4 linked regions of the Homo sapiens genome follow. The protein of the gene in region 1 interacts with the protein of each later gene in a biochemical or structural test. Each region holds a gene or a part of one and is shown in the gene's direction. Other genes may lie near its edges.

Evidence for each region.
Region 2: the proteins of RNF4 (region 1) and TCF20 form a complex in vitro, tested with the Homo sapiens proteins (one study listed by BioGRID).
Region 3: the proteins of RNF4 (region 1) and SP1 form a complex in vitro, tested with the Homo sapiens proteins (2 studies listed by BioGRID, with this or other methods).
Region 4: the proteins of RNF4 (region 1) and UBE2W form a complex in vitro, tested with the Homo sapiens proteins (2 studies listed by BioGRID).

What each region holds. Positions count from the first base shown.
Region 1 is NC_000004.12:2,493,093-2,500,119, forward strand, and holds part of RNF4 (E3 ubiquitin-protein ligase RNF4), read left to right. Parts: intron 1-3,914; coding exon 3,915-4,029; intron 4,030-7,027. UniProt on the Homo sapiens protein: E3 ubiquitin-protein ligase which binds polysumoylated chains covalently attached to proteins and mediates 'Lys-6'-, 'Lys-11'-, 'Lys-48'- and 'Lys-63'-linked polyubiquitination of those substrates and their subsequent targeting to the proteasome for degradation.
Region 2 is NC_000022.11:42,204,648-42,211,674, reverse strand, and holds part of TCF20 (transcription factor 20), read left to right. Parts: coding exon 1-2,024; intron 2,025-7,027. UniProt on the Homo sapiens protein: Transcriptional activator that binds to the regulatory region of MMP3 and thereby controls stromelysin expression. It stimulates the activity of various transcriptional activators such as JUN, SP1, PAX6 and ETS1, suggesting a function as a coactivator.
Region 3 is NC_000012.12:53,383,150-53,390,176, forward strand, and holds part of SP1 (transcription factor Sp1), read left to right. Parts: coding exon 1-473; intron 474-7,027. UniProt on the Homo sapiens protein: Transcription factor that can activate or repress transcription in response to physiological and pathological stimuli.
Region 4 is NC_000008.11:73,868,852-73,875,878, reverse strand, and holds part of UBE2W (ubiquitin-conjugating enzyme E2 W), read left to right. Parts: intron 1-5,577; coding exon of another isoform or gene 5,578-5,610; intron 5,611-7,027. UniProt on the Homo sapiens protein: Accepts ubiquitin from the E1 complex and catalyzes its covalent attachment to other proteins.

The sequences.
Region 1 (7,027 bases):
GATTGATTGAGCCTGTCTTGAGTGGTGCAGGGAAGCTACTTGGGAGGAGGAGGCTCAGAGACAGCAGAGTGGGAGGGTAAAGGATGTCCTCAGGAAGGAGGTGACATTTGAGTGGGTTCTGGAAAGCTGTGCAAGAATTGGCCAAGTAAAGAAAGGGAGGGACAGGCACTCCAGGCAGGGAAGAAGCTCTGGTTAAAGGCATGGAGGGGTCGATAGAGCAGGCAGAAAAGAGGATTCCTGAGGTTAGGGAGGGGTGGGGACATTCCTGTAATTATCCGTGAGGGGAGATTTTGGGTCCAGGACCCATGGCTGCTTTCTTGGCTCCCTCAGTGGGGCCCAGAAACCACACAGGTAGCTGTGGGACATGGAGGTCTGCTTAGCAGTGCCTAGTAAGAAAGACTTGGTCTGCTACAGGCTGGGCATGGTGGATCACAAGGTCAGGAGTTCGAGACCAGCCTGGCCAACATGGTGAAACCCCGTTTCCACTAAAAATACAAAAAAATTAGCTAAGCACAGTGGCGGGTGCCTGTAATCCCAGCTACTCGGGAGGCTGAGGCAGGAGAATCGCTTGAACCTGGGAGGCAGAAGTTGTGGTGAGCCGAGATCATTCCACTGCACTCCTGCCTGAGCAACAGAGTGAGACTCCGTCTTAAAAAAAAAAAAAAAAAAAAAAGACTTGGCTACAAGGGAAGGAGCCTATACGAGGACAAAGGACATTGTCAAAGAGAATGGGGTAAATATTTTCATTTATTTATTATTATTATTTTGAGACAGAGTCTTGCTCTGTCGCCCAGGCTGGAGTGCAGTGGATGCAATATTGGCTCACTGCAACCTCTGCTGCCCGGGTTCAAGCGATTCTCCTGCCTCAGCCTCCCGAGTAGCTGGGACTACAGGTGCATGCCACCACGCCCAGCTACTTTTTGTGTTATTAGTAGAGACGGGGTTTCAGCATCTTGGCCAGGCTGGTCTTGAACTCCTGACCTCGTGATCCACGAGAATGGGGTAAATATTAAAGAGTCCTAAGTGTTTGAAATGCTTGTTTTCTGGTGCTGTAAAGAAATAGCATTTGAACGTAAATTCAATTTTTTTTAGCAAGGCCATATTTATACTTTCTGCAGAAAGGGTACACTCACCAGTTGTTTTGCCATGAGAATACATTGAATAAAGGAGACAGGGTTATTTATAACTTGATGTGTTTACTCTGCTGCTGTATCCAGTTTTTATTGGCTGGAACAGGACCTCACATTCTGTATTTGTCCCAATTGGCTAGCAACTTAGAACTTTTTTTTTTTTTTTTTTTTGGAGACAGAGTCTCACTCTGTCGCCCAGGCTGGAGTGCAGTGGCATGATCTCGGGGTCACTGCAAGCTCCACCTCCCGGGTTCACACCATTCTCCTGCCGCAGCCTCCCAAGTAGCTGGGACTACAGGTGCCCGCCACCACGCCTGGCTAATTTTTTTTGTATTTTTTAGTAGAGATGGGGTTTCTACGTGTTAGCCAGGATGGTCTCGATCTTCTGACCTTGTGATCCGCCCGCCTCAGCCTCCCAAAGTGCTGGGATTACAGGCATGCGCCACCACACCTGGCCAGAACTTTTGAAAAGAGGCAAAGGCAGAGGAGAATAAAGGAAGGAGGAAGTAACTTGTGGAATGCTGAAAAAGGTAAAAATAACCTTTAAATAAGGAAGAGGAACAGGCTATGATCTAATGCTTGCTTGGACTAATATAAGCATGCCAAGGTAAATATTTAGGCTAAATTGTGGGAGCTAAGAATATAAAGTACATTGATTTCTTTATTATGGCTAGCAGATATTTAAGAATGTTAGTACAGGTCTTTGAATAAATTTTGCTTTTAAGAGAAGTTACTATTTATTTCTAATTAGATGGGGAGGAAAGTCTTTGAAGAGGAACCTCTACTTTACTTTTTACATAAGCAACCTGGTGGCTGCTGGGGAAACCCTTAAAACACTGGGCAGTAGAACTCCACTGAGGTTAGTGTCAGCTCCCTTGAGGCCAAGAGCAGCTGCTCACTTGGGAGTTTTGGCTGCTGTCGCTTGGCCTCTGGGCCCTCCTGGGGCTGGTTCTGTGCTCCTTAGTCCGTGGGAAGTTACTAGACCCAGCTTCATTTCCAAAACATCTCAAGCTGCCATTTGATAAGAGTAGCATTGGAACACAGAATCAGGCTTATCCCTGTTGCCTAGCGAGGGCTTGGCTGGATGGTGGGTGTTCCTGGATCTTGTATGAATCTCTCCTGCAATATCTGGTCCTTTCAGAGTTTCCTGGGACAGATTGACCCTAGTAAGGCTAAGGAATTGGGATAGTAGTAGCATCTTCCGTCTCTGCGCAGTACTTTACATACATGATCTCATTTAGACCTTATAACAGCTCTGCAAGGCTGGTACTGGTGAGGAACTTGAGACTTAGTAGTGCAGTACTTGTCCCAGGTTGTCCAGTGCAAAGGATAGCAGGACAGGGCACAGGGAGAAGAGCACGGAAACACCAGTGGGAATACAAGGTGACAGGCTCTGTTGGGAAGCTCTTTTTTTTTTGGGGGGGGGTGAGATGGAGATTTACTCTTGTTGCCCAGGCTGGAGTGCAATGGCACAATCTCGGCTCACCGCATCCTCCACCTCCCAGGTTCAAGTGATTCTCCTGCCTCAGCCTCCCGAGTAGCTGGGATTACAGGCATGTGCCACCACGCCCAGCTAATTTTGTATTTTTAGTAGAGACGGGTTTCACCGTGTTGCCCAGGCTGATCTTGAACTCCTGACCTCTGGTGATCCGCCTGCCTCTGCCTCCCAAAGTGCTGGGATTACAGGCCTGAGCCACTGCGCCTGGCCAGCTCTGTCTCTTGATTAAGGTGGAGGATATTCTCAGCTTGTCTTTTGGGACCAGGCAGACCAGAAATGCTGGAGCATATTGGCAAACCAGCAGCCTAAGGATTTGGAAGAAAGGCTGGTCAGAGTGTCAGTTGCTTATCAACCAGCTGAGAGCCTGAACTTTCCGGAAGACATGGCTCTTGGGTAGCCACTGGGAACAGGCTTAAAACAGCTTTGGTTCTTTGAGTTCTTTGTGGGGAGTGATTGTCTGGTGTGAATCACAGTTGATAGTGCCCTGAAAGGTTCAAGGCCACATTTCCCAGGGGAAGATAAGCTTTCCACAATGTATAGAAACTCAGAAAACTCCAAGTTCTTTATGCTAAGAAACAAAAAGGGCTCAGAAAGGCTGAACACAAAGTCAAGGAAGAGAAATTGATAACTTTTGGTTAAAGGGAAGAGTTTCCAGCCTTTTGGCCAGGGCATCCACTACCAAGTCCAAATCCTGACTTGGCCTCAAGCTTTTGTAAAGGGATGCATCGTGTCCCTTTTGACCTGCTGATAGTTTTTTTGAGATGGAGTCTCACACTGTCACCCGGGCTAGAGTACAGTGACGCGATCTCGCCTCACTGCAACCTCTGCCTCCCAGGTTCAAGTGATTCTCCTGCCTCAGCCTCTGGAGTAGCTGGGATTACAGGTGCCTGCCACCACGCCCAGCTAACTTTTGTATTTTCAGTAGTGATGAGGCTTCACCATGTTGGCCAGGCTGACCTTGAACTCCTCACCTCATGATTCGCCCACCTCAGCCTCCGAAAGTGCTGGGATTACAGGTGTGAGCCACCATGCCCAGCCGACCTGCTGATAGTTTGATAAAACAGAAGTTTTACTTTCTGGAATTTCTACTCATTTTATGTTTTGGATGGTTTCTCTCTCCGTAAGCATTCAGTATTCTTGAATCTCAAGTTTTGAAAGGAGCCCTAACTTCAAGTCTACTCGCTGGCTTCTTAATGAAGTGAACCATTTCTATTGCCCATTTAGTTCTTCCTGAAACCCTGACATTCTGGTGTTCATGTGACTCTTCTTTCCCCCTTGCTACTCAGAGAAAGCGTCGTGGTGGAGCAATAAATTCTAGACAAGCTCAGAAGCGAACTCGGGAAGCAACCTCCACCCCCGAGATCTCCTTGGAAGCAGAACCCATAGAACTCGTGGAAACTGGTAAGATTGCCAGGGACACTACAACTGTGGGGTGTTAAAGTGGAGAGAGAACACTGTACCAGGGTGAGCTAGTAGAAGGTGCTTTCAGTGTCTTTAGAAGGCCTATGCAGTCTCACACTCACCATGTACAACTCAAAGCTTCACAGATTCTGAAATAGCTTCTCAACTGGGCTAACTGTTCAACTCTGGTAATGTGCAGCAGTGGGGTAGGATCCATTTAAAAAAAAATCTAGCGCAAATGAGATAGCCCACCTTTTCTATCTGAAACTGCATCCCCAATTGCTGGACCTTGTAAAGTACTTCGCTTTCCTCTTCTGTTTTTCATTAGGACATGAAATCACCCAAGAAGGCAAACTTGTCCACAGAGCTCCCTGTGTTGGAGCTTGGTATAGGCAGAGGCCAGATTGGATTTCCCCTTCTGCCTGCTCAAGAAGTGGTTGATGGCTGGCCTAAGTCCCTTTGCTCTGCATATATTGTTTTTATAACTAGGATACCTGCAAACTGGCATTTTATTTTTACTTATTTATTTTTGAGATAGAGTCTTGCTCTGTCGCCCAAGCTAGAGTGTAGTGGTGCAGTCTCGGCTCACTGCAAGCTCCACATCCTGGGTTCACGCCATTCTCCTGCCTCAGCCTCCCAAGTAGCTGGGACTATAGGCACCCGCCACCACACCCGGCTAATTTTTTGTATTTTTAATAGAGACAGGGTTTCACCATGTTAGCCAGGATGGTCTCGATCTCCTGACCTTGTGATCCACCCGTCTCGGCCTCCCAAAGTGCTGGTATTACAGGCGTGAGCCACTGCACCCGGCCATGCAAACTCGCGTTTTAAACAGAAGAAACTTAGTGCAAGATAAATTTCATGGGCCCCCCAGGAGAAATGAAGTTCTCTATATGGTCTCTGAGTTTCACTTCTACAAATGAGTTCTTGAAAGCCTTGACTTGAGGCTAGGATCCTGGCTCTAGACCAAAAAGGAACGAACTGCTTTCCGTCATGGCACTTGTCATCCTCTAGGCAGTCTTACCCCTGTGTGTACTTAGGGCTGCCCATTAGAGCACTGTTTTGTTTTTGTTTCTGTTTGAGGCAGAGTTTCGTTCTGTCAGCCAGGTTGGAGTGCAATCGCGTGATCTCGGCTCACTGCAACCTCTGCCTCCCAGGTTTAAGCAAGTCTCCTGCCTCAGCTTCCCAAGTAGCTGGGATCATAGGCGCCCACCACCACACCCGGCTAAATTTTTTTTGTATTTTTAGTAGAGACGGGGTTTCACCATGTCAGTCAGGCTGATCTCGAACTCCTGACCTCAGATTATCCACCTGCCTTGGCCTCCCAAAGTGCTGGGATTACAGGCCTGAGCCACCCGCCTGGCCTAGAGCACTGTTTTTGTAAGAGCCCAGAATTGTGTTCACCAGAAAGAGAATGGTTCAATAAATTGTTGTATATCAGTATATGGACTGTTGGACAGCCCTTCTTTTTAATAAAGAATGCAATAATTTTATATAAATTATATTGTATATGTAAGATTATCACGGTTTTTATTCTTGTGAAACTTTATGATACAAGAAAATAAAACAGGCCAGCCAGATTGCTTGAGCCCAGGAGTACCAGACCAGCCTGGACAACATAGTGAGACCCTGTCTCTATAAATAAAAAAATTAGCCAAGTGTGGGAGGCTGAGGTAGGAGGATCACTTGAGCCTGGAACATTGAGGCTGCAGTGAGCCGTGATCGTGCCACTGCACTCTAGCCTGGGCAACAGCAAGACCCCACCTAAAAAATAAATAAAAGAAGTTACGTTGGGTTGGGCGCCATGGCTGGCTCCTATAATCCCAGCACTTTGGGAGGCCGAGGCGTGCAGATCACCTGAGGTCAGGAGTTCAAGACCAGCCTGGCCAACATGGCGAAACCCCATCTCTACTAAAAATGCAAAAATTAGACGGGCGTGGTGGCGGGCGCCTGTAATCCCAGCTACTTGGGAGGTTGATGCAGGAGAATCACTTGCACCTGGGAGGCAGAGGTTGCAGTGAGCCGAGATCGTGCCACTGCACTCCTGCCTGGACGACAGAGCGAGACTCTGTCTCAAAAAAAAAAAGTTAAATGCATTACAAGACACTTTCCCCAAATATTAGACCAATACTGTTTCTTAAAAAACTTCATTTAGTGTTTTGTTGTTGTTGTTGTTTGTTTGTTTTTGAGATGGAGTTTTGCTCTTGTTGCCCAGGCTGGGGTGCAGTGGCGTGATCTTTGCATCCCGGGGTTCAAGCAATTCTCCTGCCTCAGCCTCCCGAGTAGCTGGGATTACAGGCATGTGCCACCACACCTCGCTAATTTTGTATTTTTAGTAGAAACGGAGTTTCTCCATGTTGGTCAGGCTGGTCTCGAACTCTCAACCTCAGGTGATCCGCCCACCTCAGCCTCCCAAAGTGCTGGGATTACAGGTGTGAACCACTGTGCCTGGCCCATTCCGTGCTTTTTAATATTAATATTAATAGTAATCAGAAATAAAAATGGTTGTGCGTCATTTTTTACTTTATATAAATGGAAGTTGTACGTTAACTGTTTGGTCCATGTCCTTCTCACCTTTATCCTGTGCACATGTAGACATCACAGTATACCCTAAGGGCTGAAAGGCAAGCTTCACAACAGATGCAACCCATTTTGTATGTTGAGGTTCTAGCTATCAGTATATATCACTGTTATTCTCCATCCAACTAGGGAGACAAACTTGAGAGATAAATGGAAATTAAAAGTTTGTCCTTGGCCGGGCACGGTGGCTCACGCCTGTAATCCCAACACTTTGGAAGACTGAAGTGGGTGGATCACAAGGTCAGGAGTTCAAGACCAGCCTGGCCAAGATGGTGAAACCCCATCTCTACTAAAAATACAAACAAAATTAGCCAGGCATGCTGCCAGGCGCCTGTAATCCCAACTACTCGGGAGGCTGAGACAGAGAATTGCTTGAACCCAGGAGGCGGAGGTTGCAGTGAGCCAAGATCGCACCACT
Region 2 (7,027 bases), on another chromosome or scaffold:
GGTATGGGCCGCCCCATGAGACTGATGGACATGGACTAGCTGAGGCTACACAGTCATCCAAACCTGGTAGTGTTATGCTGAGACTTCCAGGCCAGGAGGATCATTCTTCTCAAAACCCCTTAATCATGAGGAGGCGTGTTCGTTCTTTTATCTCTCCCATTCCCAGTAAGAGACAGTCACAAGATGTAAAGAACAGTAGCACTGAAGATAAAGGTCGCCTCCTTCACTCATCAAAAGAAGGCGCTGATAAAGCATTCAATTCCTATGCCCATCTTTCTCACAGTCAGGATATCAAGTCTATCCCTAAGAGAGATTCCTCCAAGGACCTTCCAAGTCCAGATAGTAGAAACTGCCCTGCTGTTACCCTCACAAGCCCTGCTAAGACCAAAATACTGCCCCCACGGAAAGGACGGGGATTGAAATTGGAAGCTATAGTTCAGAAGATTACATCCCCAAATATTAGGAGGAGCGCATCTTCGAACAGTGCGGAGGCTGGGGGAGACACGGTTACGCTTGATGATATACTGTCTTTGAAGAGTGGTCCTCCTGAAGGTGGGAGTGTTGCTGTTCAGGATGCTGACATAGAGAAGAGAAAAGGTGAGGTGGCTTCGGACCTAGTCAGTCCAGCAAACCAGGAGTTGCACGTAGAGAAACCTCTTCCAAGGTCTTCAGAAGAGTGGCGTGGCAGCGTGGATGACAAAGTGAAGACAGAGACACATGCAGAAACAGTTACTGCCGGAAAGGAACCCCCTGGTGCCATGACATCCACAACCTCACAGAAGCCTGGTAGTAACCAAGGGAGACCAGATGGTTCCCTGGGTGGAACAGCACCTTTAATCTTTCCAGACTCAAAGAATGTACCTCCAGTGGGCATATTGGCCCCTGAGGCAAACCCCAAGGCTGAAGAGAAGGAGAACGATACAGTGACGATTTCACCGAAGCAAGAGGGTTTCCCTCCAAAGGGATATTTCCCATCAGGAAAGAAGAAGGGGAGACCCATTGGTAGTGTGAATAAGCAAAAGAAACAGCAGCAGCCACCGCCTCCACCCCCTCAGCCCCCACAGATACCAGAAGGTTCTGCAGATGGAGAGCCAAAGCCAAAAAAACAGAGGCAAAGGAGGGAGAGAAGGAAGCCTGGGGCCCAGCCGAGGAAGCGAAAAACCAAACAAGCAGTTCCCATTGTGGAACCCCAAGAACCTGAGATCAAACTAAAATATGCCACCCAGCCACTGGATAAAACTGATGCCAAGAACAAGTCTTTTTACCCTTACATCCATGTAGTAAATAAGTGTGAACTTGGAGCCGTTTGTACAATCATCAATGCTGAGGAAGAAGAACAGACCAAATTAGTGAGGGGCAGGAAGGGTCAGAGGTCACTGACCCCTCCACCTAGCAGCACTGAAAGCAAGGCGCTCCCGGCCTCGTCCTTTATGCTGCAGGGACCTGTTGTGACAGAGTCTTCGGTTATGGGGCACCTGGTTTGCTGTCTGTGTGGCAAGTGGGCCAGTTACCGGAACATGGGTGACCTCTTTGGACCTTTTTATCCCCAAGATTATGCAGCCACTCTCCCGAAGAATCCACCTCCTAAGAGGGCCACAGAAATGCAGAGCAAAGTTAAGGTACGGCACAAAAGTGCTTCTAATGGCTCCAAGACGGACACTGAGGAGGAGGAAGAGCAGCAGCAGCAGCAGAAGGAGCAGAGAAGCCTGGCCGCACACCCCAGGTTTAAGCGGCGCCACCGCTCGGAAGACTGTGGTGGAGGCCCTCGGTCCCTGTCCAGGGGGCTCCCTTGTAAAAAAGCAGCCACTGAGGGCAGCAGTGAAAAGACTGTTTTGGACTCGAAGCCCTCCGTGCCCACCACTTCAGAAGGTGGCCCTGAGCTGGAGTTACAAATCCCTGAACTACCTCTTGACAGCAATGAATTTTGGGTCCATGAGGGTTGTATTCTCTGGGCCAATGGAATCTACCTGGTTTGTGGCAGGCTCTATGGCCTGCAGGAAGCGCTGGAAATAGCCAGAGAGATGGTGAGTATGAGAAATCTCTTACCAGCTTGGGATTTTTATTTCATTTGGTTCCTTTTCTTGCATGTTTTTGTTCTTACATGTCACATGATTATTCCTCCAAATTAAAGTGCCTATGCCCATGTGATGGACAGAAAATGAAATAGGTAATTTGGAAGATTTGTATAGACTTCTAAAATCGTTTTTCATTTTTTGAAATGTATAATGCTTATGAAGCATATTATTATATTTCAAGTTTCTTGGGCCACATCTTTTCTAACGCACACTTTCCAGTTAGGATATTTATTCTTTGGATCTGTTTCATAACTTATCCTGGGGCAGATCATCAACATCATCATCTTCATTTCTTTCTCTCCTCTATTGAATGTTCTGTTTCCTGAATCCCATTTCTTCCTCATTCTTAAAGTGAGCCTTCATTTAAGGGCGTGCATCATCCTTTAGTAGTTTTGTGAGAAAGGGTGTGTGGGAGTGTAAAAATGTTGAGATCCTATATATCTGAGCATGACTTTATCCTAGCCTCATGCTTAATTGAGAGTTGGCTAGGTGTGGAATTCTAGATTGGAAGTGATTTTTCTCTCACTGTCTTGCAGTCGTTCTTCCTGGTTTGTCCACTAGCTTCCAGTGCTGCAGTTGAGAAGACTGCCATTCTAATTTTTCATCCCTTGATGCATGTTCTGTTTTTCTTCTGGAAAGTTTGAGGATCTTCTCCTTTTCCCTAGGGTCTTGAGATGTCAAAATGATAGGTCTTGACTAGGTCATTTCATGGTTGTGTTGGCTACTCTATGAGATCTTATGTACGCTGATGTCTTTCAGTTCAGGCAATTTGTCATGTGGTAGTTCTTTGAAAATTTCCTTCCCTCTATTTTCTCTGCTCTCTTTATAATTCCTGTTAATATAAGGCATTTTACCTCCTGGATTGATCCGCTGTTTTTATCTTTTCTCCTCTGTTTTATGTTTTATCTCATTATCTTTTTGTTCTGATTTCTCTATGCTTTCTTCAGCTTTATCATCTAATCTTTTTTGTATGTGGGTTTTGTTTTGGTTTTGTTTTGTTTTGTTTTGTTTTGTTGTCACTCAGGCTGGAATGCAGTGGTGCGATCACAGCTTACTGCATTCTCGAACTCTGGGGCTCCCTGGTACCTGGGACTAAAGGTGTGTGCCACCATGCCCAGCTAATATTTATATTTTTTGCAGAAACAAGGTCTCACTGTGTTGCCCAGAGTGGTCTCAAACTGCTGGACTCAAGCAATCCTTCCACTTCGGTCTTCTAAAGTACCAGGATTATAGGCATGTGCCACAAGCCACAGTGCCCAGCCTTCTAGCCTTTTATTTACTTATTTTTTTTCTTGATATTTTGAAGAGCTTTTTTTTTCTCTGAATGTACTGACTTTTAAAGAATAATCAGAGCCTAGTTGATGGCTATAATCGTTTCTCTTGCTTTTTGAATACATTATAACGTATTTTTTGTTTTTGTTTTTGTTTCAGTTTCATGCCCTTACCCAGGCTGGAGTGCAGTGATGTGATGATGGCTCACTGCAGCCTCCAACCACTGGGCTCAAGGGATCCTCCCAAGTAGCTGGACCACAGGTGCATGCCAGTACACCTGGCTAAGTTTTTTACTTTTTGTAGAGACAGCATCTCACTTTGTTGCCCAGGCAGGCTGGTCTCACCACCTGAGCTTAAGCAATCCTCCCACGTCAGCCTTCCAAAGTGCTGGAATTACAGGCGTGAGCCACTACACTTGGCCTGTACTATAATTTTTAAAAATCTTTGTCTGTTTCCTATTTTCTCTTTCTTGTTAGAGGTTCTTCAGATGTCTTGATTTTTTTTTCTTTATTGAGATGGGGTTTCGCTCTTGTTGCCCAGGCTGGAGTGCAATGGCGCAATCTCAGCTCACCGCAACCTCCGCTTCCCAGGTTCAAGCGATTCTCTTGCCTCAGCCTCCTGAGTAGCTGGGATTAGAGGCATGCGCCACCATGCACAGCTAATTTTGTATTTTTAGAAGACATGAGGTTTCTCCACGTTGGTCAGTCTGGTCTCGAGCTCCTGACCTCAGGTGATCCGCCCACCTCGGCCTCCCAAAGTGCTGGGATTACAGGCTTGAGCCACTGCACCCAGCCTTGATTTATATTTTTAAGAGAGAAAGAGATGTTTTAAAAAATGACTTGAAGCTCTCTGTTACAGTATGGGCCAGGCTTGCTAGCCTGTAGTCCTCTCCGTAGAATAATAAGGCAGCCAGCCAGCATATGGGTCTTTTTTCTGAGTTGAGTTTTCCCAGAGGAAAAAAAAACATTTTTTTTTTTGTTCCAGAGAAAAATCTTGAGATTTCCTGTCTAGAGATGCAAGCTTGGCTGCCAGCGTCCTAAAAGCCAAGTGGAGAAGAGGATGGTAGGGTTGTGTGGGTGGGGATATGGGCTCATGATTCAGTGCGCGGACTTTGACAATCTCCCGCCTGTTTTCAGTGGATGAGAACAGTTACCTGGTTGAACTGGGTTAAGGATCTAACTCCTCTTAGAAACTTTGGGCTAATGCTCTATTTTTCAGCCCCATGTTGCACCCCCACTTACTGAGGCCTCCCCAAGCTCTGTGCCCTAAAGTGGCTGGCTTTCTGGGGGCTCCTCCACTGCACTCATCATTACTGTCTGCTTCCTTGCAGTGCACAGAATCACTGTCACTCACTTCATCTCTCATGTTTCCAGCTTCCCATTGCTCATGGTGTCATGAGTTTATCTTGCAAGTTTATCCACTTTTTCGTGGGAAGGGATCAGATGGATGTACAACTGTATGTTTAGTAGTCTACCATATTATTTATAACCTTCTGGCAAAAAGAAGTGCCCATAGACTATAGTAAAAATTATATTGAATGTGAAATATATATTTGAAATTAGAACATTTTAATTCAGTCATGCAAGGAGCTTGCCCTTTACTCTTATCATGTCCCCTATCTCCCAATTACGGTCTTTTCTTTGTGCCTCCTTCCCTGTCTCCATTATTAACATCACGGTGAAACTCCAAGTTTGAGGTAGAAGATTCACTTCCCCTAAGAAGTTTATACACAATGACATTTTAAAATGCAAAGATCCTAGGAGGATGTAACATTTAAGACCCTCAAGTACAAAATTCTTTAGTCAAATTTGAGCGCTCAAAATAATCCGTTAATCATCCTCTTGTCAAAGTTGAGTTCTTGCTTCCCAACTTTCCTTGGAAAGTCACAGTATTTGGTGGGTTTTTTGTTGTTTGTTTTTTGAGACAGAATCTCACTTTGTTGTGGGGTTTCACCATGTTGGCCAGGCTGGTCTGGAACTCCTGACCTCAGATCATCCATCTGCCTTGACCTCCTAGAGTGTTGGGATTACAGGTGTGGGTCACTGCGCCCAGCCTGTTTATTGCTTTTTGATGTGCATATGTGTATGTGACCATCTGACAGTGTTTTCGTTATTTCAACATTTATTATTAACATATCTCAGCCCAGTTTTTTTGTGTAAACTTTTAGGTGTTCTATAGCAATAATTGATAATCAGTAATCAGGCTAAATCTTCCCCAGCAAATCTCTAGATCCTGTGTCTCAATTCAGGTCTTGGGCCGAGCATGATGGCTCACGCCTGTAGTCCCAGCACTTTGGGAGGCCGAGGTGGGCAGATCGCCTGAGGTCAGGAGTTCAAGACCAGCCTGGCCAACATGGTCAAACCCCGTGTCTACTAAAAATATGCAAAAATTAGCTGGACATGGTGACAGGCACCTGTAATCCCAGCTACTCGGGAGGCTGAGGCAGGAGAATGGCTTGAGCCTAGGAGACGGAGGTTGCAGTGAGCCAAGATGGTGCCACTGCACTCTAGCCTGGGCGACTGAGTGGGATTCAATCTCTAAAAAAAATAAGAAAAAAGTTAGGCTTGTTGTCTCTTTGAGCTGATGTACCACTATCACTATAAGATCCGTTTCTAGCTTTTATTTACCTAGCTTTTATTCTACTTTTCTCAGTGCACTCAAGGACAAATTAAAATTACACTAACTTGCCTTTTATTTAATTTGACAGATGATGTTTCAATTGTCCAGGATACTTTGAGTCTAGTTTTATCTTACTAGGTTTTAGCAGATAGATGCATTCAGTTTTGGTCTTGCTTAATGAGCATGCCCTTAATCCTATCATGTAAGATAAAGTCACATATATTTCATTAGAGATCCATTTTGGCCTATGTATTTATCAGGTGTTTTGACAAGCACGATGTTATATTAAAATATTGGGAAGTCCTCAAGAGACATTGCTCCTCTCCCTGTGTCACACTACTCTGAAAATTGCCGAAAACTAGAACATTTCTATATTTAAAAATGGTGTTTACTTCCCTTCCTTTTTCCCTTCCTTTTTCCCTTCCCACAAGTGTGGGACTTGTGAATCTATTCATTTCAGCACAAGTCCCCTTTGCTTCTGTCCAACATTGACCACTGTTTGCCTTGGTATAATTGTGTATGAGAATCACAATGACCTCTGACATGAATGATATTACAGAGGTAATTGCCTCTGAATGGGTATGGATATAACTTGGTATGTACAAATCACCTTTGAGACATTAAGGAATGCCAAGGCGTGCAGGGATGTGACAGAAGGTAGATCTGGTGGCCATGGATCCCTTGAGGCTGGATAGCCCTACTAGTGGGGGAGTCGGGGAGTCTTTGCTTGTTCCCCTCTCATAGAAGGTGCCCCTCCCAAATTTTTCCAACCCCCCTTGGGAAACTTTTAATCTTTTTTTTTTACCTGACAGTATATGTTAACTGGTTTTAGGTTAATTTTTATTTTCTATTTTTATTTTTATTTTGAGATGAGTCTTGCTCTGTTGCCAGGCTGGAGTGCAGTGGCACAATCTTGGCTCACTGCAACCACCTCCTCGTGGGTTCAAGTGACTCTCCTGCCTCAGCCTCCCAAGTAACTGGGACTGCAGTCATGCACCACCACACCTGGCTAATTTTTGTATTTTTAATAGAGACAGGGTTTCACCATGTTGGCCAGGCTG
Region 3 (7,027 bases), on another chromosome or scaffold:
CCAGCCTCAGCTAGTTCAAGGGGGACAGGCCCTCCAGGCCCTCCAAGCAGCACCATTGTCAGGGCAGACCTTTACAACTCAAGCCATCTCCCAGGAAACCCTCCAGAACCTCCAGCTTCAGGCTGTTCCAAACTCTGGTCCCATCATCATCCGGACACCAACAGTGGGGCCCAATGGACAGGTCAGTTGGCAGACTCTACAGCTGCAGAACCTCCAAGTTCAGAACCCACAAGCCCAAACAATCACCTTAGCCCCAATGCAGGGTGTTTCCTTGGGGCAGACCAGCAGCAGCAACACCACTCTCACACCCATTGCCTCAGCTGCTTCCATTCCTGCTGGCACAGTCACTGTGAATGCTGCTCAACTCTCCTCCATGCCAGGCCTCCAGACCATTAACCTCAGTGCATTGGGTACTTCAGGAATCCAGGTGCACCCAATTCAAGGCCTGCCGTTGGCTATAGCAAATGCCCCAGGTAAGATTTCCAATCTTGTGCATTTATTGGGAACCAACTCTAGCATCGTAGCTGAAACTTGAGTCTAAAGAAAGGAATAGAGCCTTTTGAGATAACACTTTCTTGAGGGTTAGTCATTTAGGCAAATAAATTTGAGAAATAGAGATTCTGTTTAAGTAATTTGGAACTGAAGTAAAGGAAACTTCTCCAGTTAGTTTGAGGAAGGAGCACTTCTGGGCAATATTCTGGAGTCTGTAATACTCAGTGTTTTTGGTGCTGCAGAATAATGGTTGACAAGCTTTCTGTAAAGGGCCAGATAGTAACGTAAATATTTTAGACATTGTGGGCCTCATGTGGTCACATTTTCTTTTCTTTTTTTTTTTTTTGAGACAGAGTCTTGCTCTGTCATCCAGGCTGGAGTGCAGTGGCGCGATCTCGGCTCACTGCAAGCTCCGCCTCCCAGGTTCACGCCATTCTCCTGCCTCAGCCTCCCGAGTGGCTGGGACTACAGGTGCCTGCCACCACGCCCGGGTAATTTTTTGTATTTTTAGTAGAGACGGGGTTTCACCATGTGAGCTAGGATGGTCTCGATCTCCTGACCTCGTGATCCGCCCGCCTCGGCCTCCCAAAGTGCTGGGATTACAGGCGTGAGCCACCGCGCCCGGCTTTCTTTTCTTTTTTTTCTTTTTTCTTTTTTTTTTGAGATGGAGTCTTACTCTGTTACCCAGGCTGGAGTGCAGTGGCGTGATCTCGGCTCACTGCAACCTCTGCCTCCCGGGTTCAAGCGATTCTCTTGCCTGGGCTTCTTGAGTAGCTGGGATTGCAGGCGAGCACCACCACGCCCAGCTAATCTTTGTATTTTTAGTAGAGACAAGGTTTTGCTATGTTGGCCAGGCTGGTCTCGAACTCCTGACCTCATGTGAATCCACCTGCCTCGGCCTCCCAAAGTGCTGGGATTATAGGTGTGAGCCACTGCACCCAGCCACATTTTCTGTTTTGTATGTTTTTTTTCCACACCCCTTTAAAAATGTAAAACCATTCTTAGCTCTAAGGCCTTCTTTGGCCTGTAGGCCAACTCCTCCATAGGATAAAAATTGATTATGGGCCGGGTGTGGTGGCTCACGCCTGTAATGCAGGCACTGAGAAGACGAGGCAGGTGGATGGGTTGAGTTCAGGAGTTCAAGACCGGCTGGGGCAACATGGCGAAACCCTGTCTTCGACAAAAATACAAAAATTGGCCGGGTGTGGTGGTACATGCCTATGGGCCCAGCTACTCGGGAGGCTAAGGCATGAGAATTGCTTGAATCTGGGAGGCAGAGGTTGCAGTGAGCCAAGATTGCACCACTGCACTCCAGCCTGGGCAACAGAGTGAGACTCTGAAAAAAAAAAAAAATACAAAAATTAGTCGGGTGGCTGGGCACGGTGGCTCACGCCTGTAATCCCAGCACTTTGGGAGGCTGAGGTGGGTGGGTCACCTGAGGTCAGGAGTTCAAGACCAGCGTGGCCAGCATGGCGAAACCCCTTCTCTACTAAAAATAAAAAAATTAGCCAGGCATGGTGATGCGCGCCTGTAGTCCCAGCTACTCAGGAGGCTGAGGCCAAGAATTGCTTGAACCTGGGAGGCAGAGGCTGCAGTGAGCCGAGATCACATCACTGCACTCCAGCCTGGTTGACAGAGCAAGACCCTGTCTCAAAAAATAAAAATAAAAGGCGGCCGGGCGCGGTGGCTCACGCCTGTAATTCCAGCACTTTGGGAGGCCGAGGCGGGTGGATCACAAGGTCAAGAGATCGAGACCATCCTGGCTAACACTGTGAAACCCTGTCTCTACTAAAAATACAAAAAATTAGCTGGGCATGGTGGCGCGCACCTGTAGTCCCAGCGACTCAGGAGCCTGAGGCAGGAGAATCACTTGAACCAGGGAGGCGGAGGTTGCAATGAGCCGAGATCGCGCCACTGCACTCCAGCCTGGGTGACAGAGCGAGACTCCGTCTCAAAAAAAAAAAAAATAAATAAAAATAAATTTGATTATGGGCTGGGCGCGGTGGCTCACGCCTATAATCCCAGCACTTTGGGAGGCCGAGGTGAACAGATCATGAGGTCAGGAGTTCAAGACCAGCCTGACCAATATGGTGAAACCCCGTCTCTACTAAAAATACAAAAATTAGCCGGGCGTGGTGGTACAAGCCTGTAGTCCCAGCTACTTGGGAGGCTGAGGCAGGAGAATCGCTTGAACCTGGGAGGCAGAGCTTGGAGCGAGCCAAGATCGTGCCACTGCACTCCAGCCTGGGTGACAGAGTGAGACTCCGTCTCAAAAAAAAAAAAAAAATTGATTATGAATTTTACCTGTTTGTAGAACACAGATTAAATCATCAGATATTTCTTGTGAACTGTAACTCCTAATTGAAGGGAAAATGATCTAACGGGTTGCTTTTCAACGAAGTAAGTTCCCTGGTTAGTATTAACCAGAATATCCCACACTCTGAGTGTGCTGGTTAATCAGGATTGAATTTTTTTTTAACTCCTAGTTATCTGAAAAACAAAATCCCATAGCTTCCCTTCACACTAACATATGAGCATCCTAGGTGATTCTGATACTTCTAGGTAGCAGTCTAACTTCCTAGACTGCTTTGAAAGTACTGTGTGTGGTTAGGAAGGGAGAAGGAAAGGGAGTGGGGTAAGTTGGGGTCTGGAATGGAGTGGGGGATGTAGGATTGAGAAGAGTTAGGAATGAGGAGAGCATTGAAGGGAAAAACAGTCTGGGAAGAATATTGAATCTGTTGACCATAATGTTCAGGGTCTTTCATTTTGAACTAAATGTTTCACTATTAATTTGAAATTTAAAACAGTAAACAGATGTAAGTCTATGTAGACTGTATCTTTTTTTTTTTTTTTTTTTCATTTTTGAGACTGAGTCTTGCTCTGTTGCCCAGGCTGTAGTGAGTGGAGTGGTGCAATCTCCGCTCACTGCAACCTCCCCTTCCTGAGTTCCAGTGATTCTCCTGCCTCAGCCTCCCAGGTAGCTGGGATTACAGGCGTGTGCCACCATGCCCGCCTAATTGTTTGTTTAATGGAGACGGGGTTTCACTGTGTTGACCAGGCTGGTCTCGAACTCCTGACCTCAAGTGATCTGCCTGCCTTGGCCTCCCAAACTGCTGGGATTACAGGTGTGAGCCACTATGCCCGGCCTGACTTTATCATTTTAAATTCCATTGTATGGAGCTAATCTTTAATAAAGCACAATAAAAGGATACACATACATCTTTATATGCTGGCACAATTATACAAATACGGAAAATAGTTTAATATCACCAAATAATATCACCCAACTTCTAGGTTTGTTTTTTTTTTTTTTTTCGTTTTCTTTTTTGGGACTGACTCTAGCTTGTCTCCCAGGCTGGAGTGCAGTGGTGCGATCTTGGCTCACTGCAACCTCTGCCTTCCGGGTTCAAGCAATTCTTCTGCCTCAGCCTCCCGAGTAGCTGGGATTACAGGCACGTCCCACCATGCCCATTAATTTTTTGTATTTTTTTAGTAGCGATTGGATTTCACTGTGCTGGTCAGGCTGGTCTCGAACTCCTGACCTCGTGATCCGCCCGCCTTGGCCTCCCAAAGTGCTGGGATTACAGGCGTGAGCCACTGCGCCTGGCCACTTCTAGTTCTTTTGGCATATATATGTGGGTTTATAAATTGTTTACTTTTGTTACCAAGTTCTCATTCCATTTAACTGATTCTTACATAAGTGAGGGTAGCAAATAGGCAACCATATTTCCTGCCTCCTGCAGTTTTGGTAAATCTAGGGGGAAAGTCTGCTTAAGTTCCCTGATTTCTTACATTCCTGTGGTGTGTTTAGAAATACTACATGTTGAGCTTTAACAAGACAGTAATTTTCTTAGTTAATTGAAATCTTAGAATTGAAAGTTAGAGCTGGAAGGGACTGAAGTTATTTAGTACAACTGCCTTATTTTCTAGATGAGGAAATTGAGGTACAGAGAATCACTTAATGAGACAACAGCCAGAGCTGAGGCTAGTTTTACTAGTCTAGGGTGCAACCTGTTTTAACTAGGGACTTGAACAATTCTTTAGATTGTTAAAAATGTATTCGAGCCAGCCTGGTGGCTCACGCCTGTAATCCCAGCACTTTGGGAGACTGAGACAGGCGGATCATGAGGTCAGGAGATCAAGACCATCCTGGCTAACATGGTGAAACCGCATCTCTACTAAAAATACAAAAAAATTAGCTGGGCGTGGTGGTGGGTGCCTGTAATCTCAGCTACTAGGGAGGCTGAGGCAGGAGAATGATGTGAACCTGGGAGGCAGAGCGTGCAGTGAGCTGAGATTGTGCCACTGCACTCCAGCCTGGGTGACAGAGCGAGACTCCGTCTCAAAAAAAAAAAATGTATTCGAAAAGGTGTTTTTGATTTAAGATTTAATGCTCTAAAACTGACAGATGTTTATAAAACATTTATAAAAATGTTTTATAAACTAAACATTTATGGGAATAGAAATGGGAAAAGTTTTATAAAAACTGACCTCTACAACGTAGAAAATTAGACACTTCTGGGCAACCTACACCATCATGTTTATTTTCTATTTGCTCTTAGATTGAAGTGCCCGGTTTTGCTCTTCTTCAGAGCAAACTGTGGGATTATTCCTGTTAATAATTTGGATCCTTGCAATTTCTAAAAGGCTTATAACTTAGGGTTTAGAGAACAGTTATGAGGCATTCTCATTGCTAAATCATGCTCTGGGGAAGTCTGCCATTTAATATGTCATAGACTAGGGCTACCTAGTTGTTACTGATGGTGTTTGAGCTGAAGAAAATGCGTGTGTGTTTCTGTAAGGTAAGAGGAGCTTGACATTCACTAAGGAGATAATGAGGCATTGACAGGCTGTTTTGTAAGAGTTGAGATTGTTTGCTTCATTAATAGGGGTTTTTGAAGATCCAAGTTTTCTCCTTTCTGGCTAGTAATAATTGTGTAGTATTTCCCCTTTAATTGATATGACTTCATCCTTAAAGAAAGATAATAAAATCACTTCCTAGAGGCTTACTCCTTTTTCAGCTTTTGCCTTCCTGCTGGCAAAAGTATCTTGTTTTGGCCAGGCGTAGTGGCTCATGCCTGTAATCCCAGCACTTTGGGAGGCCAAGGCAGGCAGATCTCTTGAGCTCAGGAGTTCAAGACCAGCCTGGGCAACATAGGGATCCCCCATCTCTACAAAAAATATGAAAATTACCTGAGCATGGTAGCACACGCCTATAGTCCCAGCTACTTGGGAGGCTGAGGTGGGAGGATTGCCTGAGCCCGGGAGGTTGAGGACGCAGTGAGCCATGATCACGCCACAGCACTCCAGCCTGGGCAGTAGGGTGAGTCCCTGTCAAAAAAAAAAAGTATCTAATTTTACCCCCTTCTCTGATAGTTATTTTACTGTAAAATTTAACCTTTTTGCAGTATGTTCAACTTCTTGGTACGATGTAGAAAGAACATTGGATGTGAAATGTTGTATGATACATGTATATATCACTGTACAAAATGAGATATATTACATGATTGTGGAAGATTGCAGCTTCCATGGTGTTCACTTAGTCTGTTTACATTCATTATTTTTTAAAATGATCTTTTTTTTTTTTTTTTTTTTGGGAGACGGAGTTTCATTCTTGTTGCCCAGGGTGGAGTCCAATGGTGTGGTCTCGGCTCACTGCAACCTTTGCCTCCTGGGTTCAAGCAATTCTCCTGCCTCAGCCTCCCGAGTAATGCCCACCACCACGCCTGGCTAATTTTTGTATTTTTAATCGAGATTGAGTTTCACCATGTTGGCCAGGCTGGTCTTGAACTCCTGACCTCAGGTGATCTGCCTGCCTCGGCCTCCCAAAGTGCTGGGATTATAGGCATGAGCCACTGTGCCCAGCCGCTAATTTTTGCATTTTTAGTAGAGACTGGGTTTCACCATGTTGGCCAGGATGGTCTCGATCTCCTGGCCTCCCAAAATGCTGGGATTACAGGCGTGATGTTTCTTTTTTTTTAAATTGACACCCCTCCCTCTTTTATCAACAGCTTTTCCTTTCATTTTGTAGTCATATTTTCCCAGATCTTTATTTTATTTTATTTTACTTTTCATTTAAAGCCTCAGATGTTTTTCTTAGCCGCTGCTGAATCCTGAAACTCTTGCCGCAGGTTGACGGGGAGTTGGCTTTTAAAGATTTAAGTTTGGATGACTTCTTGTGAGTTCTGTCTAATAAAGAGTGCAGGGCTGGGCTTTGGCAGGAGAATAGAACATATTTCCTTGATGGGTATAATTCATTCACAAACCAAATTTCAGGTACTAAAAATAACAATTTCACATCTGCTGGGTTTTATTGGGGTCAGGAAAATGTCTTCTCTTAGAAGTTAAGTTGAATGTGATACCAGGGTTGGTTTGCCAAGGGTGTCACTAAACTTGGAGTCAGATTGCTGAGAGCTAATTTGTTAAAAAGTTGTGTTTTAGAGCAGTACATTTGGACATTAATGAAAAGTAGGTTTAGATGATTTAAATGTCTTACCAGTTATCATTTTTGTGCAAAAGGTCATATGAAAGAATT
Region 4 (7,027 bases), on another chromosome or scaffold:
TGGGTTTTGCCATGTTGGCCAGGCTGGTCTTGAACTCCTGACCTCAGGCGATCCACTCGCCTCGGCCTCCCAAAGTACTAGGATTACAGGTGTGAGCCACTGCACGCGGCCAAGTGTGTTATTATATTAGAAGGTGATAGTGCAGTGGAGAAAAAGCATGGAAGAAGACTAGGAAATTGATCATTTGGGGATTTCGATTAGGAAAAAATAAGCTGTAACATGGAATGACCATGTCCTTAACCCAAAAAGCTTTTAGTAGATTTATCTAACCCACACCAGGATGTTGCTGCTGCTGCTGAAGTTACTTAAGCTCTAAGAGGAACTGTATTTTTTTTAAAATGCCATATTATACAAATGTAACATGGGATTTCATTACTTGGTAATGAGTAAAACAAGTAAGGGTAGACTTTGAATTTCTTATTGGAGAGTATGTATTTTAAAGTTGAGCTAGTAACTGCTTTAATGTATTCTGTCAGTGCGTCTCAACCATCTTTTAGGTTCTGCCCACATAGAAAGTAAGTTTTGAATAGTACACTAAAGTAGATGAGATTGGGAGGCTAGAAGCACCTGGCAGGCAGCACCTCATGAAACTCCCGGGATGGGAGATCAATATTCTGGCACACCTGTAAATGCTGGGGACGCTCTACTCCCTAATATTGCTAGAGTTCTGCCATATACAATTCAAGATAGTGGTTTTCAGACTTATGTGATCCCTTTGAGACATTCTTTACTCATTTTCTTTTTTTCTTTTCCTTCCTATTGTTTCTTCCTAGAAAAAAGTAATGTATCACCAAGTAAGATTACAGTTAAATTATGTTTTAAGAAACCTTTTCTTTTTTGGAGACAGGGTCTCACTGTGTCACCCAGGCTGGAGTGCAGTGGCGCTGTCTCGGCTTGCTGCAGTTTCAACCTCCCTGGGCTCAAGTGATCTTTTCCATCTCAGCCTCCTGAGTAGCTGTGACTACAGGTTTTTGTATTTTGTAGAGACAGGTTTCACTATGTTGCCCAGGCTGGTCTGGAACTCCTGGGCTCAAGCAGTCACCTGCCTTGGCCTCCCCAAATCCTGGCATTACAGGCGTGAGCCTATGTGCCCAGTCTTAAGAAACCATCATTAAGAGAATGTTATATTTGTGGTGATACCTAAAATTGATAGGAGTTAAACAGATCTACATTTAATTTTGGTAATTCTAAAAATCTTTAAATATTACATGAAAAGTTTCTTGTAGCAAATTTTTAGTTTTAGCGTTTTAGGGACTGATTATTTGGTAGAAACTTTTATCCCCAAACTGCAGAAGCATTCTTTTATTGAAGTGAATTTTTATGTGATTCTAAACATTTTTGAAAGTGTAGCAGTATTGAGGTATTCTTTTCTCAGGTGAATCCTAAAATTGAATTTTTTGTTGTTGTTGTTAAATGCTTTTTTAAAATTTTATTTTATTTTATTTTTTTGAGACAGAGTCTCGCTGTCGCCCAGGCTGGAGTGCAGTGGTGCGATCTCGGCTCACTGCAGGCTCCAATCCCCGGGCTTCATGCCGTTCTCCTGCCTCAGTCTCCCGCGTAGCTGGGACTACAGGCGCCTGCCACCTCGCCCGGCTTATTTTTTGTATTTTTAGTAGAGACGGGGTTTCACTGTGTTAGCCAGGATGGTCTCCATCTCCTGACCTCGTGATCCGCCCGCCTCGGCCTCCCAAAGTGCTGGGATTACAGGCGTCAGCCACCGCGCCCGGCCGTGTTTTTAAATTTTATAACCTTTTTTCTTTCCTATGTATTATTTAATGTTATGAAGTACTTGACCTCCTGGATATAATTTCTGATTTTAGAATTTAACTGCTTCATTCAGACTTCTCGTAAGTTAGCAATTTTAACATATATGCTGTCTAATTTTCTAATTTGACATTCTAGAATTGTTAATTTTAGATAAAACCTCCTGTTACGTTGTGTCTTAAGATCTTAGAAAGTCAGTGCATAGTAGTTGATGTTTGTCAACTCTAAAAACAGTGATATAATTGAGAGAAATGGTCAGTTGAATTACCCTTGTGAAATTTCTGCATTTACTTCCTCTCTTACCTAGCTGGGTCTTAGACTGTTAACTGTCAATTTGTAGGGATGGAAGGAGGTTGAGATTTAATAACAGGAGATAAAGTATGAATGTGTGCTTATTTTCAGACTTAGAAATAATGCATTATTTTGGATTATTCACAGCTTTTAAAATTTTTTCTCTCTGAGACAGGGTCTCACTCTGTCACCCAGGCTAGAGTGCAGTGACGTGGTCTTGGCTCACTGCACCCTTGTCCTCCCAGGCTCGGGTGATCCTCCCACTTCAGACTCCCAAGCAGCTGGGACTATAGACACGCCACCATGCCTGGCTAATTTTTTTATTTTTTGTAGAGATGGGTTTTTTCCCTGTTGCTCAAGTTGGCCTTGAACTCCAGGACTCAGCCATCGGCCCACCTTGGCCTCCTAAAGTGCTGGGATTATTACAGGATGAGCCATTGCCCCCAGCCCACTGCTCTTTGCTCAAGTAATTGGCTATAGTGATTGAGAGAGATGGAACATGGACTCTTACAGACATTACTGTTGTAGTAGTCATGTTGCCTTGACAGTTAGATACGACGTCTGTTTGTTGATGTCAGTATGGAAGGGTTACAACATAATTAAAAGTTAGAAAATAGGCCAGCATGGTGGCTCAAGCCTGTAATCCCAGCACTTTGGGAGGCTGAGGTGAGTGGATCACCTGAGGTCAGGAGATCGAGACCAGCCCGGCCAACATGGTGAAACCTAGTCTCTACTAAAAATACAAAAAAAATTAGCCAGGCGTGGTAGAGCGCATCTGTAATCCCAGTTATTTGAGAGGCTGAGGCAGGAGAATCCCTTGGGCCCAGGAGGCGGAGGCGCCTTGCAGTGAGCGGAGATCATGCCACTGGACTCCAGCCTGGGCGACAGAGTGAGACTCCAGCTAAAACAAAAAAAAAAAAAAGGAAAAAAAAAAAGGATTATCTTTGAACAGTAAAAATTTACAATTATAATTTTACTCAGTACACAAGTATACACATGAGAACTTCTTTTTAAAATATGATACATAAAGTAACCTTGTGTTATAAACTCAGGAATATTTCTTCTTTTCTTTAGCTATAAAAACTATAAAGTAGTTTAGTAAATGCTTAATTCTTGACTGAAAAGTTACATAATTACACCAATGATTTCTCTGTGATGCCAAACTGTGTTCATTACTTACACCTTCACAGCATCAACAGATTTCAGAGCTTAGTTTCACTACTCAGTTACTGTGTAATTTTGAGTAAGTCACTTTCCAAATAAGTACATACTTACCAGCAGTTACTGCTATGTCTCTATTAGAATGAAATTAGGTTAGTTGACTTCCTTTTTTATAAAGAATATGAAGATACTATGAAGAACATTACAGTTATGGCAAACGCATGCAGCAAGAAAATAAGCCACTTTTTTGGTATATTATATAAATATGAATTTTAAATTATTCCTTTATAGGTACTGAACCTTACTATTGTAGAACTGCTTAATAGACTGACCTAAAATAGAATTAAACTAATGCAGAATTAGCTATTTAGGAATGCTTTTTGAAGTGTTAAGTAATGGACAAATATTTACGGTAGTCACTGTGTGCACATTTAAGGGATAGAGGGAAAGTATTTTTTCCTGCCTTAATGAAGCAGGAAATCTAAAGCAGAAAGTAATATCAGATTATCCTTCAAGGCTGGCCACCGCGCCTGGCCTTCAAAGATAATCTTCATTATCAAGGAGAGTTTTTAAGGTGGGATGATCCCAGCGTGGGACAAAAATTAGCTGGGTGTGGTAGCACATTCCTGTGGTCCCAGCTACTTGGGGGGCTGAGGTGGGAGGATCACCTGAGCTCAGGGAGTTCGAGGCTACAGTGAGCCAGGATTGTGCCACTCTACTCCAGCATGGGTGACAGAGTGAGACCCTGTCTCAAAAAATTTATATAAAAATAAAAAATAAAGTGCCGCTGCACTCCAGCGTGGGTGACAGAGTGAGACCCTGTCTCAAAAAGTATATATAAAAATAAAAAATAAAGGGATGATCTGGCATCTCTCTGAAAATATAGTTCTCCTTAGTATTTACCTAAATTAAGCATTTGTTAGATGAATTTTATTCCATCTTTATATTATTGCTGTCTGCTTCATTATGAGTAGTATCTGCAAAATACTTGTTCATGTTTGTCAGGTATTAAAGTGTCCTCATTTGAAAGCCTTTATTTGTGAATGTAGTTCTTGGATCACCAAAAAACAGCGCATGCTTTTGAGTTGTTTTATTCTAAGAAAATACTCTACTTTCATTTAGCTGCTTTTGTAAAACTTCATTAGAGATAAAGAACACAGGCTCTGTAATGAAAAGACCCAAATTCAGGTCCTGTTTCACTACTTTTTAAAAAGCTATATTGCACAGAAATCATTATGGAGTGTAGTGGGTAGACAAAAACAGATTAGCAGATAGATAAACATATAAAACTGCATTTTGTATTTATCTTACCCAAACTTGTTTTCTGTAGTACTCCCCATGTTGGTATATAGGCAACTTCATTCCATTTGCTCAGCCAGAAACCTTGGGTTCATTCCACCCTACAGTCAAACCATTAGCAAATTTCTATCTGCTCTGCTTTCAAAATATATCCAGAATTCAACTGATTTTCTGAATTCCTGATGTAAATACAGATGACATCCTCATTTCTTGCCTGGATTATATTAGCAGTGTCATACTGGTTTTCCTACTTCTGCCCTCATCCGTTTACTTATCTCTTTAGATTCCCAATAGATTCTTTCTAAACAAAAGTCATGTCATTTCATTCATAATCCTACTATGACTTCCCTCTCTTCCTCAGAATATAATCCAAAATCCATGTTATAGCCTAGGAGGTCTTAACCTCTCCCAGGTACTCATGTCTCTGTAGCCTTATTGTCCTCCTTGCTACTCCTGCTTGTTGTTTTCTCTATTTGGAATGCTCTTCTCACACATCTGGATGATCTGGATGGCTTCCTTTTTTTTTTTTTTTTTTTCTTTTCACTCATAGCTTTGTTCAAATATTTTTTTTTTAAGAGAGCCCTTCCTGACTACCCAATATAAAATAGCTCTCCCATCCCAGCGCTAATAATTTCCTTTACCTTGATAAATTCTTCATACCTTTGGCTATGTATTAATTAGCTTATTTTCTATTTTCTTGGATGTAACCTAGTGCCTGACATGTAGGAGAGTTCAGTAAATGTCGAATAAATGAATAAGTGAGCACAGCTTTTGGAATCAGATAACCTTGGGTTTGAATTCTAGTGTTGTTGTTTAATAGCTGTGTAACCTCCCACCTCCAAATATAAAATAGGGATGATAAAAACAGGTTATTTCATTTCCTGGATCTTTGGAATTGGTGAATTATCTTTTAATGCTATGTTTCCCATTTTAAGCTAGCTCTACTAGATGCTTTTGTCTTTTTTTTTTTTCTGATTTCTAGTCCCTGCACTAGCTATCAATGGAAAAAATAGATTTCCTTTATGACCATGTGTTACATGAGGTCTTTCTTTGTATTTTCAGACCACAGGAAGGAGGGTGGAAGTATGGTTTCCAGTAAGTGTGTGTTTTTTTGCCAATCCTCTTCAAAACTTGAGAATTAGTCAAATAAAATTGTGAGCTATTAAAGTCCATTTTGACATCCTTTTAATGCACAATTTTTTCTTCTAATTGAAATATAATCCACATATAAAACTTACCCTTTTAAAGTATACAGTTCAGTGGTTTTTAATCTGTTCAGAACCATCACTGCTGTTTGCAGAACATTTTCATCACCCCAGAAAGAAACTCCTTATCCATTAGCAGTCACTCCCTATTTCCCCCTTTCCCCAGTGTCTGGAAACCACTCATCTATTTTTTGTCTCTGGATTGGTCTATTCTGGGTATTTTGTGAGAGTGGAATTATATTATATATGACCTTTTGTGCCTGGCTTCTTTCACTTAGCTGTTTGTTTGAGACAGGTGAGACAGGGTCTCATTTTGTCACCCAGGCTGGAGTGCAGTGGCACAATAGGCTCACTGCAACCTCTGCCTCCTGGGTTCAAGTGATCCTCCTGCCTCAGCCTCCGTAATAGCTGGTACTACAGGCATGCACCACCATACCCAGCTAATTTTTGTAGTTTTTTTTTTCCCTGAGACAAGAGTCTTGCTCAGTCTCCCAGACTGGAGTGCAGTGGCACCATCTCGGCTCATTGCAACCTCCGTCTCCCAGGTTCAAGCAATTCTTCTGCTTCAGCCTCCCGAGTAGCTGGGACTGCAGGCGTGCGCCACCACACCCAGCTAATTTTTGTATTTTTAGTAGAGACGGGGTTTCACCATGTTGGCCAATCTGGTCTCTTACTTCTGACCTCAAGAGATCCACCTGTCTTGGCCTCTTAAAGTGCTGGGATTACAGGTGTGAGCCACTGTGCCCAGCTAATTTTTGTATTTTTGTAGAGACGGGGTTTAACCATGTTGGCCAGGCTGGTCTTGAACTCCTAGACCTTGTGATCCGCCCGCCTCGGCCTCACAAAGTGCTGGGATTACAGGCATGAGCCACTGTGCCCGGCCTTAAAAAAAGCTTTTATATAGACAGATTCACTGTGTTGCCGAGGCTGATCTTGAAACTCCCAGTCTCAGCACCCCTCCTGCCTAGGCTTCCCAAAGTGTTGCGATGACTGGCCTGAGCCACCATGCCCAGTTCATAATGTTTCTGAGGTTCATCCATGTTGTAGCTTGTATGAATACTTATTCCTTTTCGTAGCCAAGTAATGGCCCATTTTTTGGTTGTACTGCAGTTTATCCATTCACCAGTTATTTAAATATCAGATATTTGTGTTTCCTGTTTTCATTCATCAATGGATTAATTGACAGTTTGGATTGTTTCCCCTTTTTAGTATGAATAATGCTGTGAACATGTATGTACAAGTTTTTATGTAGGCTTGTGTTTTAATTTGTTTTTGTTAATATACCTTGCATGTAGGAGGACCTCAGT